2 separate regions of the Homo sapiens genome follow, and region 2 is linked to region 1. Evidence: fine-mapped expression QTL. A gene starts in region 1. The other region holds a variant in brackets. All regions are shown on one strand. Distances are from middle to middle. Region 1 holds the start of SBF1 (SET binding factor 1). Region 2 overlaps PLXNB2 (plexin B2).

Region 1 (2,891 bases):
GGAGGAAGAGGTGAGATCATGTACACAAAGGGCTGTGCGGGGCCTGGCACACCAAGCACGCTCGCCAACGCTGCTGTCTCCAGGCTGTTGCTGATGTCATCGTCAGGCTCCGTTTTCTCCTACCTCCTGGGCTGAAGAGCTCTCAGACACGGGCGCTGACCCCACACACAGACCTCCTGGGCATGGGCACCGACCGCCACGCTGATACCCCACCCAGGGCTTGGCGTGCAGGGCCTGGACCGTCAGGCGAGTCGCCAGGAATGCTCTTCTCTCTACTCTCGACGCTTCCTCCTCAAATCCTCCCAGTTTCAAATCAAACACCGCTTCTCCATGCACCAAACCCGAACTCCACCCCCTCTTTGCACCCCGCCAAGACCGCCGGGGGCTTCAGACGGAGCACCAAGGTCAGAGGCGGGCTGGCGAGCCGCGGGTCCGCGCCCCTGGAGCCACTAGAGCCACAGCCGCCCGCAGCTGGCCAAGGAGAGAGCCCGTCCCACCCCAAGGAGGCCGGGCAGGCCGGGCCCAGCCTTCTCTCCCTGCCGCCACCAGGCCCGCGCGGCCACGCCGCCCCCAGCGGACGCCCATTCTCCCCACGGGCTGTCCGGTCGGCCCTGGCCTTCAGTCCCCGCCCGGCCCCCGGCCCCGGCCCTCAGTCCTCGGCTCCCCCGACCCCGGCCCTCAGCGCCCAGCCCCCGGTCCTCGGCCCTCAGCGCCCGGCCCTCAGTCCTCGGCCTCCCGACCCAGCCCCCAGCCCTCGGCCCCCAGCCCCCGGCCCTCGACCCTCAGACCCAGCCCCTGGCCCTCAGCACTCGACCCTCGGCCCCCGGCCCTCAGCGCTTGGCCTCGGCACTCACCGCGCGGGTGCGGCCCGAACGCCACCAGCACGAAGTAGTCCGCGAGCCGCGCCATGGCGAGGGACGCGGGGCGGCCCGAGGGGCGCGGGCGGGCTCCGCGGCTCGGGGACTCGAGGACGGCGCGCTCATGGCCCGGCCCCGGCCCTGGACCGCGCACCCCGGACACCCCTGGTTCGCTCCGCGGCGGCGGCGGCGGCGGCGGCGGCGGCCCAGGTTCCCGCCGCCATCTTCCCAGCCAGCCGGCCCGCCCGGGCGCGCCGTGCGCCTGCGCGCTGTCGTCAAGCCCTGAGCGGGCGGGGCCTGCAACCGCGCATCTCCATTGGTCCAGAGGGTGGGAGGGCGGCTCCCGAGAGCAGCGCCCCGCCCATCGCTGACCACTCTGGGGCCCGAGCACCGCCCCTCGGGCCGGGCACCTGGACTACGGCTCCGGCGGGTCTGACGCCCTGACCCGGGTCGGCTGTGGTGTCGGCGGGAGGCATGGGCCAGGACCACAGCTGCCCTCGCCGTTGGGACTCCCCGCACAGGAGCCCGAACCCCACCCCTGGGCCGTCCCAATCTGGGGATCGGGTCCCCAGACTCCTCGTCCCCCGCCCCTCTCTGTCCAGCGGGAGAAAGGCGGGAGAAGCCTAGGCGCTGCCTACCGGGCCCCCCAAACTAGAAGTCAGAGGAGGCGCAGGGCCATCACCTCAGGGGCTGCCAGCCTGGCGATGGGGAACAGAGAGAGAATTCAGGCCCTGCCCTTGGGGTCCCAGGCTGAAGAGCCCCCATCTAGGCCAAGTGAGACATTTAACACAGCTTAAAAACGGCACGCTCATGTCCCCCTGTAAAGAGCAAATGTTCTAAGCGTGTGAGGCACATGAGGCCACGGAGCAGGGGGCTCTGGGAAAGCTGCATCCCCCAGGATCCCTGACAGTGCCCACCCCTCTCAAGGGCAGGGCTGGCCAGGGCCACCCCTGAAGTGGCTCAGGGATGAGCATGAGCCCAGAGCAGAACATGCTGGGAGAGAAGGTGCAGGAGCCAGCCTGGTGCAGCAGGGAAACCCCTCTGAGCACAGCAGGCCAAGGTCTGTTTTTTGTTATGTTTTGTTTTGTTTTTGAGGCAGAGTCTCAATCCGTCACCCAGGCTGAAGTGCAGTGACACCATCTTGGCTCACTGGAACGTCCGTCTCCTGGGTTCAAGCAATTCTCCCGCCTCAGCTTCCCGCGTAGCTGGGATTACAGGTGTGCACCACCATGCCCGGCTAATTTTTGTATTTTAGTAGAGAGGGGGTTTCACCATGTTGGCCAGGCTGGTCTTGAACTCCTGACCTCAGGCCATCCACCCACCATGGCGTCCCAAAGTGCTGGGATTACAGGCATGAGCCACCGCCCCCAGCCCGAAGGTCTGTTTTTTGTTTTTTGTTTGTTTTTGTTTGTTTGTTTTGAGACAGAGTCTCGCTCTGTCGCCCAGGCTGGAGTACAGTGGCGTGATCTTGGCTCACTGCAAACTCCGCCTCCCAGGTTCACATCATTCTCCTGCCTCAGCCTCCCGAGTAGCTGGGACTACAAGCACCTGCCACCACGCCCAGCTAATTTTTTGTATTTTTAGTAGCGACAGGGTTTCACTGTGTTAGCCAGGATGGTCTCGATCTCCTGACCTCGTGATCCGCCCATCTCGGCCTCCCAAAGTGCTGGCATTACAGGTGTGAGCCACCGCGCCTGGCCCTGAAGGTCTGTTTTTAAATGAGTTTGGCTGCTGCAAGAACTGGCCAAATGACTGGCATCCAGTCTCCATCCATGGGCAGGAGCCAGCCCAAGAGAATGAATGGAATCAAACTGAGAGGCCCCACCAGGGTCCCCTCCCTGCCCTCAGGCACAGGCCACGCTACGCCTCTCCTCTCCCACTGTTGGTTTTCACAGGTTGAGAAATCATCTTTTTAAAATTTAATTTTTTTGTAGAGACAGGGTCTTGATAAGTTACCTAGGCTTGTCTTGAACTCCTGTCCTCAAATGATCCTCCTGCATCTGCCTCAAAAAGTGTTGGGATTACAGGTGTGAG
Region 2 (2,891 bases), 170 kb before region 1:
CGGACCCAGGGTCAAGGCCAGACTCACCCGAGGCAAAGGCCGAACGCTCCCGGCACAACCCGACCTAGGAGCTGGGGCGGGGCGGGGCGGGGCGGGGCTCCAGGGACAGACTGATGTGGAGGCCTGAGCCTCGCTTCAGCGTCTACAGCGGTCCCCGCTGGACTCTCGGCTGAGGACCCCTCCCAGGTGGAGGCCGTCGCACCCCTTCCCCGCCAGCCTGGTTTCAGGGTGGGGTTCCTACTTAGGGCCAGCCTCCCCTGCAGTCTGGGCTCTGGGTCCCAGCAGGAAAAGTCACCCTGGCTGGTGGCAGTGATGGGGTCACCAGCCCAGGATCCTGGGGGTGCCCCATGAAGCCCCAGCTCCTCCTGTCACTTGCTCCAGCCGAGTTAGTCACAGCCCCCACTGGTCCACACCTCCTGACACACCCAGGCCACCTGGTACCCAGGGCCTCTGTATCTAGCCCTGGCCCTCAGGCACCCCCTGAGCTCACCTGGCCATGCCCAAGGGGCCTGCCCCAGCCCCCTCTCCGCCTCTGCACCAAGTGCAGCCCCTGTATATGGTGCGTCCCTAGACTGGGGCCCCAGGCTGCCCTCCCATCCTACACACAGTTGTGAGGCCCTCCTCAGCCTCCTCTCTGGCCACGGCCCACTGGCGCATCTGGAGGATGGTCCTCCCCAGCCCTCAGACAGAAGGTGGGATCCAGTTGGCTACGGCGCCCTGTCCCCACACGCACCAGGCCTGCAGAACCACCTCTCTCCTCAACCACCCCTTTCGGGGTCCCAGACCCCATCCTGTCCAACCTGGGCACAGCTGCAGCCCCCTCTTGCTACACCGTGGTCCTTCGGGTCAGAAAGCTGGGCAGCGCAATGAACCTACCGATGTCTCCGTGCTTCCTGAGGACCTCCTGTGGGAGGGGTGGGCACCGCCAGGCGCTCGGGGCACACGAGGCCGATGGCTACAGCAGGAACCACCAACTCATCAGGACAGGACATGCGGTCAGACAGCAGGCGGCCACGGAGGGACTCTCGTGGGATTCTGGGGCTCAGTCACTTGGAGTCTCTCCTGAAAGGAGGCCTCCCGGCCCGCCGGTGCCCAGCCCCACCTGCAGGCTCTCCTCTGAGTGGCCCCCACGCATCTCCCCCTTTCCAGCTCAACCCCGCAGCAGCCGGCTGCTCAGAGACCAGGTCCTGCCTGGATGCAGCTGGCTCAAGACCAGCCCCCGCCCACAGCCCCCTTCTCACCCCCGGGGTGGGCGTTGGGGGGTGGACGGGTGAGGCCCCAGCCAGTGAGCAGTAAGCAAGGCCTGTAATCTCCCCGTCAGCCTGTCAGCGCCTCAGCGGTCACCCCAGCCCCGCCTCGCCCATCACCGCTGAACCCCACAATTAGCTTGGGGCACCGCGCCAAGCCTGTGTGCCAGACACCACTTGCACACATGACCACACATGTGCAGACACACATGGCTGGGTGCTGCCGGAAAAGCCCTGCCAACAGGGTCTCACCCCAACACCCAGAACTCGTCCCCAGTACAAAGAGCCTGGGAGAGAAGCCTCAGGCCGGGGCACTTGGGCTAAGAGGGGCAGTGGGGCTCTCAGAACCCAGCGCTGCCTGGAGCCCCGAGGGAGGGGCCATGTGTGGCATGGGGAAGTGGGGTGGGGGCAGGGCC[G/A]TCTCAGCAGGGGAGAGGGGCTGCGTCTGCCCAGGATGAGCTGGGGGCTGGTGAGGCACAGGGTGTTGGGCAGGACCTGGGTCCAGGCCAAGGGTGAGGCAGCCCAGGGTGTGGGCTGGGCCCCACAGGGGCAAACACTCAGGGCTTTGGGAGGCCAGAGGGACAGGGATTTCCCAGTGAGGAAATGCCCATCTCAGAGTGGGGGCAGGACAGTGAGTGGGAGGTGATGCCCGTGGCTGGAGCTGTGTGGGGAGGTGGGTGCCCCTGGAGGCCAGGTCCAGCCCCTTGCTCCACGCGGAGGCTTGCTCTGCTCATGGTGGAGCTGAGGACTTCAAACCCCACAGGGCCTGGTCGAGAGCCACTGGGCCCCAGGTCTAGATGTGGAACTGGGGGACCCTCCAGCGAGCTTTGCTGGGCCTGGGCGGCCTGCCTGGGGCGCCCCACCTTCACGCCCTCCTCCCTAACATCCTTTTCTCCTGAAGTCCCTCAGGGTGGTCACCAGATCAGGCTCGGTGCCAACATAGGAGTGGGGAGGCCAAGCCCCTCAGCTCCCCTGGCCAATCTCTGAGGCTGAGAGGGAGTGGGGGGGGCCATGCTGGAGCACCTCCCTCCCACCACCTGCCCCTTGCCCCTGTCAACTGCTGGCTCCACTTAAAATAGCTTCTCCCCCTCGCTGGTGGGAGGGAGGCCCTGGTGTCAAGCCGGTAAGGCTGGAGCAAGGCTGGGCACAGGGCCTGGGCTCAGCAGTGTTCTGTGCCCTCCATCTCCTCCAAAGCAGGCCCCAGCTCTGAAAACACACCTGACAGGGCTGGGATCCACAGAGTCCTCACCTCCTGCTGGTCCTCAAACCCCACTCTCCATGGCTGGGTCCCTGAAATACTTGGATTACCCTCAAGCCCCCCGCCATCCCCCCAAGCTGTGGCTCCCATGCCACCCTACCACGTCTGAGTCACACAGGCCCAGGCCTCCCTTGCTTCCCCCAGGAGAGACCCCCCCACACTCCTGCTTCTGGCCTGTCCTCAGAGCCCCAGAACTCACCTAGGTTCAAAGCCAGACCCCAGCTGAGGACAGAGCATGGACCCCAGGCAAATGCAGTGACAATCACAGAGCACGCTCCTACCACAGCCACCCACGCAGCCTGAGGCATAGCCCCCTGGAAACTGCCTCGGCCTTCAGCACCCCACTTTGGACCAGCAGGGCAGGGGGGTTCCTCCTCTGAGAAGTCCTC

The links. PIP is the estimated chance that this variant, and not a neighbour inherited with it, causes the effect.
Region 2: its variant is the best candidate, but not a certain one, in a credible set for the expression of SBF1 in whole blood (TOPMed, PIP 0.77).

Annotation. Positions count from the first base shown.
Region 1 is chr22:50,473,932-50,476,822 of GRCh38, forward strand. It overlaps SBF1 (SET binding factor 1), which reads right to left and starts at 1,104. Exons shown (of 41, transcript NM_002972.4): 1 at 855-1,104. The coding sequence starts at 909. RefSeq lists enhancers at 1-446, 1,357-2,266 and silencers at 466-595, 1,016-1,475, 1,056-1,260.
Region 2 is chr22:50,300,471-50,303,361 of GRCh38, forward strand. All of the region lies in intron 1 of PLXNB2 (plexin B2), which reads right to left. Among named protein-coding and RNA genes, the nearest start is that of PLXNB2, 5.7 kb to the right of the region's middle. RefSeq lists enhancers at 1-526, 527-1,083 and a silencer at 1,221-1,270. The variant G/A (reference allele first, on the strand shown) is at 1,664.